2 linked regions of the Homo sapiens genome follow. The protein of the gene in region 1 interacts with the protein of each later gene in a biochemical or structural test. Each region holds a gene or a part of one and is shown on either strand. Other genes may lie near its edges. The genes, in order: CAMK1 and GCM1.

The links.
Region 2: of the proteins of CAMK1 (region 1) and GCM1, one has a biochemical effect on the other in vitro, tested with the Homo sapiens proteins (one study listed by BioGRID).

The regions. Positions count from the first base shown.
Region 1 is NC_000003.12:9,766,835-9,774,799, reverse strand, and holds the start of CAMK1 (calcium/calmodulin-dependent protein kinase type 1), read left to right. Parts: upstream 1-4,852; 5' UTR 4,853-4,968; intron 4,969-7,018; 5' UTR 7,019-7,050; coding exon 7,051-7,133; intron 7,134-7,965. UniProt on the Homo sapiens protein: Calcium/calmodulin-dependent protein kinase that operates in the calcium-triggered CaMKK-CaMK1 signaling cascade and, upon calcium influx, regulates transcription activators activity, cell cycle, hormone production, cell differentiation, actin filament organization and neurite outgrowth.
Region 2 is NC_000006.12:53,126,236-53,131,893, reverse strand, and holds the end of GCM1 (chorion-specific transcription factor GCMa), read left to right. Parts: intron 1-962; coding exon 963-1,091; intron 1,092-2,947; coding exon 2,948-3,688; 3' UTR 3,689-4,933; downstream 4,934-5,658. UniProt on the Homo sapiens protein: Transcription factor involved in the control of expression of placental growth factor (PGF) and other placenta-specific genes. Binds to the trophoblast-specific element 2 (TSE2) of the aromatase gene enhancer. Binds to the SYDE1 promoter.

The sequences.
Region 1 (7,965 bases):
TTTTCCCACCAGAATGTAGGACTACTCATTCCTCACATCAACATCAGCCTTCAGTGTTACCAGCTTTTTAAACTTCAAATTTGAAAGGCTGCAAATGACCTTCTATTTTGTACTTTTTTGTATCACTAGTGAGATACAAAATGTCCTGTGTTTACTGTGTTTTATCTGTATCCTTTGACCATTTATTAGGTTCTTACTGTTTGTTATCAATCCTGTGTGCTGTTTATATAATAAATATATTAAGCCATTGTCTACAAAACATTTCCCCAGTCTGAAGTTTGCCTTTCATTTTTGGCTACCATTTCGGAGTAGAGTAGGGTTTTCACTTTTTGAAAAAAAGTTAAAAAAAAGTAACAAAAGTTAAAGTTTTGTTTTTTTTTTTTTTTTTTTTGAGACAGAGTCTGGCTCTGTCATTCTGGCTGGAGTGCAATGGTGCAATCTCAGCTCAATGCAGTCTCCGCCTACCAGGTTCAAGTGATTCTCCTGCATCAGCCTCCCGAGTAGCTGGGACTACAGGCATGCGCCACCACACCTGGCTAATTTTTGTATTTTTAGTAGAGATGGGGTTTCACTATGTTGCCCAGGCTGGTCTTGAACTCCTGACCTCAGGTGATCCTTCTGCCTTGGCCTCCCAAAGTGCTGGGATTCAGGAGTGAGTCACCACGCCCAGCCAAAGAATTTTAAAAAATAAACCTGTCCATCTTTTCCTTGTTATTTCTTCCATTTTCTCTAATCTTAGTTAACTACTCACTCTTTCAATAGCTTCTTTTCTGTCAGGTTCAAGAATTCATGGAGGCCAGCCATACTGGCTCACGCCTATAATCCCGGCACTCTGGGAGACCCAAGCAGGAGGATCACTTGATTCCAGAGTTCCAGAGAAGTCTGGGCAACAGAGGGAGTAGAGACCCGATATCTACAAAAAATAAAAAACTAAAAAAAATTAGCCAGGTATGGTGGTACACACCTGCAGCCCCAGCTACTCCGGAGGCTGAGGTGGGATGATCACTCCAGCCTGGGAAGTCAAGGCTGCAGTGAGCCATGATGGCGCCGCTGCACCACAGCCTGGGTGACAGAGTGAGGCCCTGTCTCAAAAAAATAATAAATAAATAAATAAATAAAAGAATTGATGGAGATGTCTGCACTGTTTAGCCATTCAAAAAAAAAAAAAAGAAGAAAAGATCATCCCCCTTTTCCCTGAGAACATTTGACTTTCCTTGACTCACCTTTTTTTAAATTATTATTCATTTATTTATTTTTGAGACGGAGTCTCGCTCTGTCGCCCAGGCTGGAGTGCAGTGGCGCGTGGTCTCTGCTCACTGCAAGCTCTGCCTCCCGGGTCCACGCCATTCTCCTGCCTCAGCCTCCTGATTAGCTGGGACTACAGGCGCCCGCCACCACGCCTGGCTAATTTTTTGTATCTTTAGTAGAAATACAAAAGATAACAGGGTTTCACCATGTTAGCCAGGATGGTCTCGATCTCCTGACCTCATGATCCACCCGCCTCAGCCTCCCAAGGTGCTGGAATTATAGGCGTTAGCCACCGCACCCAGCCACTTTTTTTTTTTTTTTTTGAGATGTAGTCTTGCCGTGTCACCCAGGCTGGAGTACAATGGTGCAATCTCAGCTCACTGCAACTTCCATCTCCTGGGTTCAAGCAATTCTCCTGCCTCAGCGTCCCAAGTGGCTGGGGATACAGGTGCATGCCACCACACCCAGCTAATTTTTGTATTTTTAGTAGAGACAGGGTTTCACCACGTTGGCCAGGCTGGTCTTAAACTCCTGACCTCAGATGATCTGCCCACCTTGGCCTCCCCACGCCTGGCCCTTCACTCACTTTTTGATTAGTACTTTGAAATGTGCTCATCGGGACTGGGGGCTGCAGAAGGATGTATATGTATACGCATCCAAAAAATCTGGAAGAATTGTACTAAAAATGTGAACACTGGTTGTCTCTGGTTGGTGGGGGCCCGGCTGAGAGTGTTGTGTTATTCTTGCCTCCCTCGCACCCCTAATTCCTTTGGACAAGATACCTCTTCCATTCCTTATGGCTGCCCATTACAGTACACTTGCTCAATATAGCACCCTAATTCTCCTGGCAACAGTTTTGGAGGCCAAGGGGTGAACATGTCACTCTATCACTCAAGCAGAGCCAGAGTCCTTCCCTGAGAATGAGATAGGAAATTGGGAGGATGCTTTCCTTCCACTGTGTTTAATTGGAAAGCTGGGGCTGCCTCACTCCATGTTTCCTGCCAACTAGAAGTTCACTCTGGAGAGAAAAAGAGGCCAACGTGTGAAGAAAAATCAAGACAAGGAGAGAGGAGGGAAGACAGAGAAAGCAAATCCTATGAGTACTACATCTCCAGTTCCAGTCTCCAAGCCCCTAATCTCTGGTGTTTTTCCTGCAATCTTGTGCCAGCTATTGTGAACTATAGATTCCTCTTGGATGAAGCTGGTTTAGGTTGGCATTCTGTCACTTGGGAAGCGAAAGAATCTCATCAGTTAGTCTGTGTGTGTTTTCAATACATTATGGAATTTTCCTGCAATGACCATGTATCACTTGTTCAATAGAAATACTAAGAAAGTAAAGATAATGTGTTTGTTAAAGAAAAGAAAACACGAGGCCTCTCAGAAATGCTCAAAAGCAGGAAAAATGTAAAGCACACCATAGAAGCTGTACAAGTCAGCTGGGCGCGGTAGCTCATGCCTGTAATTCCAGCACTTTGGGAGGCTGAGGCAGGTGGATCACCTGAGGTCAGGAGTTCGAGACCAGCCTGACCAACATGGTGAAACCCCCATCTCTACTAAAAATACAAAAATTAGTTGGGCGTGTTGGTTCACGCCTGTAGTCCCAGATACTTGGGAGGCTGAGGCAGGAGAATTGCTTGAACCCAGGAGGCGGAGGTTGCAGTGAGGCGAGATGGCACCATTGCACTCCAGCCTGGGCAACAGAGGGAGACTGTCTCAAAAAAAAAAAAAAAAAAAAAAAAAAGAAGTTGTACAAGTCCTCGAAAGGACAGAGGTCATCTTATCACCCAGGGGGTGTTGTCATCAAGATGAACAGGAATTTGTGGTAAAAGAACCCCTAGCTCAGTGGGTGTGCTTGGTGGGTATAGGGGAGAGTGGGGGCTCAGCCCTGAGCAGGAAATGTATTTTTCCATGAACTAAGGAGTCTGAGATACTGAGATTTGGAAGATGGATCCCTTAACCCCTCATCCCTGGCCAAATCAAGTCCTCTCTCTGAGTCTCAGTTTACACTGAGTCTAGCTCTCATGTTTTGAATAGTGTTCTAGGCACTTCATATCATTATATCATAGAATTCTCAGAACTCTGAGTCAATCTTCAATATTCCCATGTTCCCGAGTAAGAAACTGAGGTTCGGAGAGGTAAAGCATGACCAGGATCAGTTAGACTCCAAAGCCTTTCCAGGAACCTCAGCTATCTTCCTCTCTCATCTGTAAGATGGGCATAATAAATTGGCCAGGTGCAGTGGCTCATGCCTGTAATTCCAGAACCTTGGGAAGCTGATTGGGGAGGATTGCTTGAGCCCAGGAGTTTGAGACCAGCCTGGGCAATATAGTGAGATCCCCATCTCTACAAAAAATAAAAAAGCCAGGTGTGGTGGCACGCACCTGTAGTCCCATCTACATGGGAGGCTGAGGTAGGAAGATGACTTGAGCCCAGGAGTTTGAGGCTGCAGTGGGCCGTGATCATGCCATTGCACTCCAGCCTGGGTGACAGAGCAAGACCCTGTCTTAAAAAAAAAAGAAAAAGAAAAAAAGAAGAAGAGAAAGAAAGAAAAAAGAAAGAAAGAAAGAGAAAAAGGAAATGAGCTGGGCATAAGCACTGTTCTCTCCCCATCACCAGCTGGAACATGCAAGAATTCAGGAGTAGGGAGTGGCACTTGGAGGCCCTTGGAGGTGGAGTGGGGTCCCAAGCAACGTGCCTCCTCCGGCTGCCCCCAGTTCAGCCCCATCCCCAATTCCTGCGAGTTGCTCCCCCCGCCCCCTCTTTCCACTCGGCACCAAATTTCTTCCCAAGGAAGGCCTTGAGCAAACCGACCTTTGGCCTCTTGCCTGCCGTCCTAGTTGCAGGCTCTCTCCCCTAACCTGGACCCCAGCCATCAAACTCTGGAGCCCCGCCAGTCACGTGACACCTCGGTCCTTTTTGGCCTGTTTCCTTCAGGATCCCGATTTAACTTCCTCCTCCCCAATTCCCTCTGCCCCCAATACCTCTAGGCACCACCACCCGCTCTGAGGAGCAAGTGTCTGGGGCTGAAGCCTCAGCTCCATCTTGCAGAGGAACCGGGGCCTCAGTCTTCCCACCTGTCAAGTGGGGCCCACACCCTGCGACCACCTCCACTCTCTTCATTGCCTAGTCTTGCCCGGTCCTTCCCCACTCCCTCACTCCCCCATCCCCCACCAGACTCCCGTGCAGTTCCAGGGCCTGTTTCCCTTCAGGGCACGGAGAAGGGAGACAGAGCCCTAAGGGAGGTCGCAGAACTGGTCTGAAAGAAAATCCACCAGGCCACAGGGTGAGTTTGGCCGGCCTCTAGCTTCAGACAGACGGGGTTCGAATCCTGCTTTGCTTCCGACCACCCGCTGATTTGAAAATCATCTCTCCGGGCCTCAGTTGTCCCCTCTGTGAAATGGACCCCGCTTAAGACCAAGGGCGGGAAGCGTCCAGCAGGAGATCTCTGACCAGAAGCAGGGAGATGGCCTCCACCCGTGCCCCTTCCCCAGCCTTGGAGCGGTGCCTCGCCTCCCAATCCCGGGTCCCTCCGCCGCAGGCTCCACCTCCACTGACATCAGAGCCGCAGGCGGGCGGAGAGAGCCGCCGAGCCGAGCCGAGCCCCAGCTCCAGCAAGAGCGCGGGCGGGTGGCCCAGGCACGCAGCGGTGAGGACCGCGGCCACAGCTCGGCGCCAACCACCGCGGGCCTCCCAGCCAGCCCCGCGGCGGGGCAGCCGCAGGTACAGCCGGGCCCCCCATCCCTGCACCCCTGGGCGCTGCGTGGGGGCGGTGGGAGCCCCTAGCCTCTGGGTATCCTTTCCCAAGGAGTGGCCACTGGGCACTCTCCCGGGCGGGCTGGACCCTGAGGGGCAGGGCTGGGCCTTTCTCCACCTCTGTCCCAGGCCCAGCAGGTGCCAGGCGGGCCTATGGGACACTGAGTGGGTAATAGAGAAGGGGGCCTGTGTGAGCGCCTTCAGCTGGGCCTGACTGGAAGGGCGTGGGCATTTGGAGGTATCCATGGGGTGGGGGGGCTTGCGGAGTGTACTGTCTTAGGACAGGCGTGTGGGTCAGACATGGGTGGAGGATCTGGGAATCTGTGTGTTTTTTGTTCCAGAGGGGTGTCCACGTGTTTTGTGTGCTGGTATTTGGCTCTCAGGGTCTTAAGTCAGAGTTAGGAGGGGGTGTACAATTGTGTACTGAGGATGTTTGGAGTTAGGTGTGTAAGGACTTGGGGTTTGGTTTGGAATACAGGAGCTTCCAGGGGATGGGGTAGAGGAGCTGGAGGGTGTAGGGTACGTCTGGTATATGAGGGTGTGTGTGTGTGTGTCTGGGTGTCATCTTGTGTGGGTGCGGGTGGATGTGTGTTTTGGGGTGTAAGAGGGAGCTGGGTGAGGGATGTTTGGATGGACAGGCAGGTGTTCGGGTGCAGGGCTGTCTGGGGCACTGTGTGGTGTGGACATGTGTGCTGATGTCTGGGAGTACATGTATGATCAGGTGTCACGGGATGTGGATACAAGGCGTACTGGATCTGGGAGGCAGGTGTTTGAGTTCAGGGCTGTGGAGGGGGCTTGGTGTGGCATGTCTGCTACAGGGATGTGTGTGGATCTGTGAGGGTTGTATTTGGTAGGCCTCCATGTGGGTTTCAGACTCTGCCTCTAGAGCTTACACTCGAGTCTCCTTTCCTAGAAGATTCTGCCCCTGGATGGGTGGGCAGGGTCCCCTGGGAAAAAGGTCCTGTTCCAGGAGTGGAATCTCACACCAGAGGCCCTAGTCAGGGCACCTTCTCCTCATTCTCCCTTAGAGAAAAAGAGAGAAGGAAAGTGCTCTCCCTGAGGTCACAAAGCATGCTGGGCTCTGTTTTGGCCTCATCTGTGGATGGGTTGGGAGGCTGTGTTCTCTGAATGGGGCCCATTCTGGCTTCATATTGGAAGTACCAGCCAAGGCCATTCGATGGCCTTTGCCCTCAGCAAGCTTAGCTGGGGGCCCCAGGCCAGGTGTCATTAGGGCCTCTGGAGCCAGCCTCTACCTAACTCCAACCTCAGTCTCCCCATTCTTCATCTGATAAATGGGAGAGAACTCCCACCCTCTCCTGCTGGATGAGACAGACCTCAGCAGAGGAAGGGCCAGGCTGGATAGGGTTAGATGGGGCCAGGAAGGGACAGAGTGAGCAGGACCATTTCTCATGCTCCCGGGACCCAGATGGGGAGTCAGGAGGGAGAGGTCTGGGGAGCTCCAGCTGTGGCTGTTGTTGCTGTGGTAACAGTGCAGAAAGAGCTATTTAAAAATGTGGCTGAGATGTTGCTGGAAGCCCAGGCTGCTGGAAACCTGATTTCGGAGAGGCCGGGGAGTCGGGGGAAGGAGGAGGGAAAGGAGACACCCCAGCAATCCCCAGGGTGGGGCGGGGACATCACTGGTTCTGGGGACAGGGGGATCCTCCAGGCTTCTACCAGCTGCTCTGGGGGTTTATCTGTTGTACTGCCAGAAGTCAGGGTTTCCCTAGGTGCTTGGATTTGGATAGGGGGAAAACTGGGAAGAGAACTAGAATAAATGAATGAATGAATGCATGACTTTGTTAAATAAAGAATTTTGCTGCCACTGTGAAAGGTTTTTCTCTAGGCATGAGAATTTGCTGAATGTTGAATAAACAAATGAATGTTTGTTGAATGATTTTGTCAAATGGATGAATCAAGGATGAATAAATGCAGGTTGAATGACTGAATGGGGCCTGCAGTAAATTCCCAGACAGAGGGCTGGGCTCTGCTGAGTCTCCTCCTTCCATTCTCCTTACAGGAGCCCTGGCTGTGGTCGGGGGGCAGTGGGCCATGCTGGGGGCAGTGGAAGGCCCCAGGTGGAAGCAGGCGGAGGACATTAGAGACATCTACGACTTCCGAGATGTTCTGGGCACGTGAGTCCAGGGCAGGATTGGGTGCTGGATGGCTGAGGGAGGCTGAGTCCAGGGTGGGGCTTCCTCTGGTCAATTAATGCTTCCTGTTTCCCACAGCCCAGGCCCTGTGGCAGCACTATCTAGGGCCTAAACTGTCCCCAGCTTTTCACTTCTGGATGACAGTGGGTGGGACACGGGCTGCTCTCCCAATAGCCCTGGGTTCTTGAAGAGAAAGAAGTCGAGAGAATGAAGGTGCCAGTCAGTCCATTTAACTTGCTGCCAAGAGCTAAGTGTTCTAGCCTAGGTTTGGGAACTGAGGCTGGAGATGGCTCTGTTCTTGGTGCTGGGAATGCAGAAATAACTCAAACCTGGTCTCTGCCCTTCAAGTTGATCCCAGACATGTGCAAGAGACAGACCTACAGAAAATGACAACAGGGTGTGTGCTGTGCTCCAATTAAGGTTGGGATTGAGGGCTTTGTGGAGCCCAGAGAGAGCTGTGCCTTCTGCCTGGGGGAAAACTTCCTGGAGAATGGGGCATTAGAGCTGGGGACTGAAGGATGGGTAGGTGTGCACTTGTCAGAGAGGAAGAAGGACATTCCAGGCAGAAGGAATAGCATAAACAAAGGCTTAGAGGCATGGTTCTATGTGGAGAGAGGTAGAGTGTGATGGAGCTTAAAATCACAGGCTGGGGGGAGAGTGGAAAAAGGGGCTGGAGATGAAAGTGGGACAGTTTGTGTAGGGTTTTGGAAGCCAGGCCAGGGAGGCTGGATATTGTCCCATAGGCCACCGGGAGACACTTAAGACTTTTTGGCAGGTGTGCAATTCAGGATAGTCACTCTGGCCACAGCTTGGA
Region 2 (5,658 bases), on another chromosome or scaffold:
GAGAGCAAGTATCTGTCCCCTGCACTTCTAATAGATGTTTGAAGTGCTGGGGAGCTCTAGAAGGGGAGCTGCCTGTCTCTGCTTCTACTTCTCAGGAGAAGTGGCAGCTAATCTAGTCACACTGAGGTTAGCACAGTGCTTCTAAGCATGCCGCATGCTGCATGCTGCTGGTAGCCTTCAGCAAATCTGAGTTTGAACACCAGCTCTGACTTTTTACTCGGTCTTTAAACCTGAGCAGGTGATTTTCCTCTTCCACGTCCCAGTTTTCTGTAGAATGTGTAAGAGTACTAATGGGGCAGTGGCACCAACAGTGGTGAAGAATGGACCCTGACTCAGACTGCCTGGGTTTGAATTAGTGGGATGCTGGTAAACCAGCTCTCCAAAAAGAAAATGTCCTGATTTGTAGCATTTGCCAACTTCTGTAATGGAAATATTCTCACCGTGGCTGATTTCAAGCCAGCAGTCATTTTTAACAATCAGCCTACAAAATTCCTGAATGTTTAACTATTGACTCTCAGCTTTGGCCAGCTCCAGGTAGGGGAATCCTAGGTCCCTCACTTCTAGAGGAGGTTACCCAGCTGGCGTAATCACTCCATGCCTCAGTTTCCTGTTCTGTAAACTGGGGGTGATAATAATGGTGTGTACCTCAATGGTTGTGCTGAAGATGAAATGAGATATAAGGCACACAGGGTGTTTATTTGTGTCTGGCACATACCACAGGAAGCATTTAGTAAGTGTTACTTAGCACTGTGATTATGGCTTTGCTGGGTGGGTGAGAGGCAGGCAGGCAGGAGCATGGTGGGCTTGGGAGCGCCTTCAGAGGTTCATCCAGTCTGGTTACCATAGGCAACTGCAACACCACCCCCGGGGCAGGACACACAGTAAATAAAAACTGATACACCATGAAACACAGTCTAGTTAGTGTTATATCATTTCCTTTCTACTTCCTTGTCTCATTTAAGTCAAAGGGAGAGCATGATCATCCAAAACCAGAAACCAAGTTAGAAGCTGAGGCAAGAAGAGCCATGAAGAAAGTGAACACAGCACCTTCCTCCGTCTCATTGAGCCTGAAGGGGAGCACAGAGACCAGGGTAATCCTTCATTATGTATGTTCAATACATGCAGTAGCTTGCCACGCCTGTGCTGGGGGCGGTAGATTTCCTGGGTCCCTTGCTGACGCAGGAAAGCCAGAAATCATGGATTATCAGGCTCATCTACAAACAAGCATCTGCTAAAGAAATTAAATCTGAGGCTTTACTCTTACTTTCTACCATCTTTGTAGCATGCTGGGAACCATAAAGTCCATGTAATTGGAGAATCATCTTCCCTACTACAATTACAAAGAGAAACTTGAATTAGCACTTAACTTATATTTGGCAAGAACCAAAAACAATTGAAACAATCTCCACAAAATAGTAGCCTTATGCATTTCACCGCCTGCCCCCTCCCCGCCCTCCTGAATTTCCATACGTCCCCAAACAGATTGTTTTCTTAGCACACTCTACCAAGATGAAATAAGCAAGCAGTTTCCGAAAATGATAGCTGTCCCAGGGTGGCAATAGTGGAGTGGAGGCTACTCCCTATAGACAAACTGTGATGTGAAGTCCACTGCTTTATGGGCAGCAGATCATAGGTTTTTTTGCATTTGTCTGTTTAATATTGATAGTAGTTCCTATACTTTTTCTACTGTTCAAAGGTGCACATTTCTTTTTGGGAGAACAGAGATGGAACTGGTCCATCCCTAGAGGCTGTAAATGTACTTTATTTAAAAAAATTGTAATGTGGATCTGTTGTAGGGAAATGCAAGCCCCCCAAACCCAAATGGCTATTTCCTCATCCTTTCTCCCAGCCATGGGACAAGTCAAGTGGCATTTCAGTCTCTCATCCAATCTACCTGGTCACAGCCCTTTTTCTCTACCCCCTAAAAGTATCCCCTTAACAGCTAGTAGTTTTACCTAAACAAGAGCATAACTTAATTCTCAACCAGATCCTTTTTTTAACGATTAACTAAAGAACAATATACCTCCTCCATTTAGAAAAATAAATGAATGTACCACTCGTGTTCTAGAGGTCTGATTTATGGTTCAACAAAATTCCCACGAATTCAAAGAAAAATCTCTTGAGGAAAGGAAAAACTAAAAAACAATAGCAACCATGGTCTCTCACACTCCAACCAGCACTAAGAAATAGAATAGTCAAGGGAGGAAATGTTGAGAGACAGAGACCCTGGGAGTTGTGCTGAGTATAATATAAATCTTTGAAGTTATACTTTGATATTTTGTAAATAGTTCCTTATAAGTTTCTCAAAAAGGCAATTAGAGGCCAGGCACTGTGGCTTATGCCTCTAATCCCAGCACTTTGGGAGGCCAAGGCAGGTGGGTCACTTGAGGTCAGGAGTTCGAGACCAGCCTGGCCAACATGGCAAAACCCCATCTCTACTGAAAATACAAAAATTAGCTGGGCGTGGTGGCAGGCGCCTGTAATCCCAGCTATTGAGAGGCTGAGACATGAGAATTGCTTGAACCCGGGAGGCAGAGGTTGCAGTGAGCCAAGATCGTGCCACTGCGCTCCAGCCTGGCTGGGCAACAGAGCGAGACTCCATCTCAAAAAAAAAAAAAAAAGAATAAATAAAAAGCAATTAGGATATCAGATTTGTGTTTGAGTGTGAAACATCTTAAACACACTCATGTCTCTACTGAATGTAGGGAAATTTGGCTCTTACTGGTTAGCAAGCTTTAACATGGAAACAGAGGCAGCCTTTGCTTTTTTCAAGTGTTTCGTGGTTGTGGTCAAGCCGCTGCATGTGTTTGTGCGTCAAGTATTAATGTGTAAGGAATGAGGAAAATCTGATGGAGCTCTTATTTGTACAGAGTAACTCATGGGTGCCTATGGCAGTGGTTTTGATTTGCTTAACTTATTAACACGAGCATTTCACTTTCCTTTCCAGTCTCTTCCAGGTGAAACACAAAGTCAGGGGAGTTTACCTTTAACTTGGTCTTTCCAGGAAGGCGTCCAATTGCCTGGTAGTTACAGTGGACATTTAATAGCTAACACTCCTCAGCAGAACTCACTAAATGATTGCTTTTCCTTCTCCAAGAGTTATGGTCTGGGAGGAATCACAGATCTGACTGACCAGACTTCCACTGTGGACCCCATGAAGCTCTATGAAAAGCGCAAATTGTCCAGTAGCAGAACCTACAGTAGTGGAGACCTGCTTCCTCCTTCTGCCTCCGGAGTCTACTCTGATCATGGCGATCTACAAGCGTGGAGTAAAAATGCTGCTTTGGGGAGAAATCATCTTGCTGACAACTGTTATTCCAATTATCCTTTTCCTCTGACCAGCTGGCCTTGCAGCTTCTCTCCTTCCCAAAACTCTTCAGAACCCTTTTACCAGCAGCTTCCATTGGAGCCACCTGCAGCCAAAACTGGCTGTCCCCCATTATGGCCAAATCCAGCGGGTAATCTTTATGAAGAGAAAGTACATGTGGATTTTAACAGCTACGTCCAGTCTCCTGCATACCATTCACCTCAAGAAGACCCCTTTCTCTTCACCTACGCCTCTCATCCTCATCAGCAATATTCACTGCCAAGCAAGAGCAGCAAATGGGATTTTGAGGAAGAAATGACATACTTGGGTTTGGATCACTGCAACAATGATATGCTTCTGAACCTGTGTCCTTTGAGATGACCCAAATCTTTCACTATGTGCACCCCAGCCCCTCAAAAATGGGGAAGGGCTGAAAGAATTTCCTTAGGAAATAATTTTTAAAACATAACCACAGATAAATGAGAATCATGATAAGCAGTAGACAAGGCTTTTTTCTTTTTCTTTTTTCCTTCTTTTTTTTTTTTTTTTTTTTTTTTTGAGACAGAGTCTTGCTCTTTTGCCCAGGCAGGAATGCAGTGGCGCCATCTCGGCTCACTGCAACCTCTGCCTCCCGGGTTTGAGTGATTCTCCTGCGTCAGCCTCCCGAGTAGCTGGGATTACAGGCACCTGCCACTGCGCCTGGCTAATTTTTCTATTTTTAGTAGAGACAGGGTTTTGCCATGTTGGTCAGGCTGCTCTCAAACTCCTGATCTCAAGTGATCTGCCCACCTCACCATCCCAAAGTGCTGGGATTACAGGCGTGAGCCATTGTGCCCGGCTGACAAGGCTTTTTTCTTCACATGAGTAATTTTTTTGGCTTCTTCTCCTCCACTCTAGTATTTCCACCCTCAGTAAGGAATGGAAACCTGTCCCGTCTGGGGTGTGAAGTGCCCTCTGCTTTTTCCCCCACATTGTTTGGGGTTCCCAGCACCTCAGCCACATTGCATGCTGGGTTTTCATTGTCATTGTTGCAAATGAAATGGAGTAGACATGTGAAATGCTAACCTATCTAGGACCTGATCTATGCCTTCTTGGGAACTGAGAATGAAGAAACAGAAATAGATGGTGGAAGAACTGCCTAAGGTGTGAAAAGCTGAAGATTCTACCACTGAAGTACTGAATATGTTGTCTAGTTGTGAGACTAGTGTGTAAAATATATGTTTTCTAGATGATTTCTGAGACTTGTGATGACAAGGAACCTGACCTAACCCCATTTTTCATAAAGACAAAGAACAGCAATGTTAAATTGCCATATGAAGAGAAACACTAGTGATGTGCGTGGTCTCCTTGCCTCTTGTTTCCTTCCCTCTTCCTCACTGACTTCCCCTTGCACAGGGGCTTCTGTTTTATCCCATTTATTATTTGTGGCACCTATATCAATGTGGGGTTTGTAATAGGTGAGAAATATTTGCTTGGAGAAGCTCTTGTGCAATTAGCCTGGCAATGATTGGCCGGCCATGTTTGAATGCCAGTTTCTCTTCTTTGCTGAAGTACTTTATGATAAAAGTAAGCCTAGACATAAAATCTGGAGAGAACCATGCAATAAACAAGTATTTTTGAAATAAATTATTCCTTCTCCTTTATTAGAATAGTAACAGATGCACATGATACAAAATTCAAAAGTGAAAAAAAAGAAGTCTCCTAGTTCTAGTCTCCCCTCTGCAACACTGACTAGTTTCTTGTCTATTATTCCAGATATTAGAAATGTTCTCTGCATATATATAATTATATGTAATGTGTATGAAATACATTACATAAAATACACACATATCTTTTATATATAAAATATATTTATATATATATATAAGAGAGAGATGACATAAGTGGTATCATATCAGATTCATTTCTAACATAGTTTTTGTCGTTTTAGGAGCCAATTTGAGCATTAAGTTCTTATAAGCATATAGGATCACAGCTGCTTCATTTTTAATGATGCATTATGCATTACATGACTATTATAATTAAATAGTCCCTATTGATAAACATTTAGATTTGTTCAAATCTTCTAAATTCATTTGTCTAAGTGACAAGACTATATATAAAACTTATATATTGGCCAGGCATGGTGGCTCACACGTGTAACCCCAGCACTTTTGGAGGCAAAGGCGGGTGGATCACTTGAGCCCAGGAGTTCAAGACCAGCCTGGGCAACATAGCGGGACCCCGTCTCTACCAAAAATTAAAAATTAGCTGGATGTCATCATGCATACCTGTAGTCTCAGCTACTTGGACCTGTAGTCTCAGCTACTTTGGAGGCAGGAGGATCACTTGAGTCAGGGAGGTCGATGCTT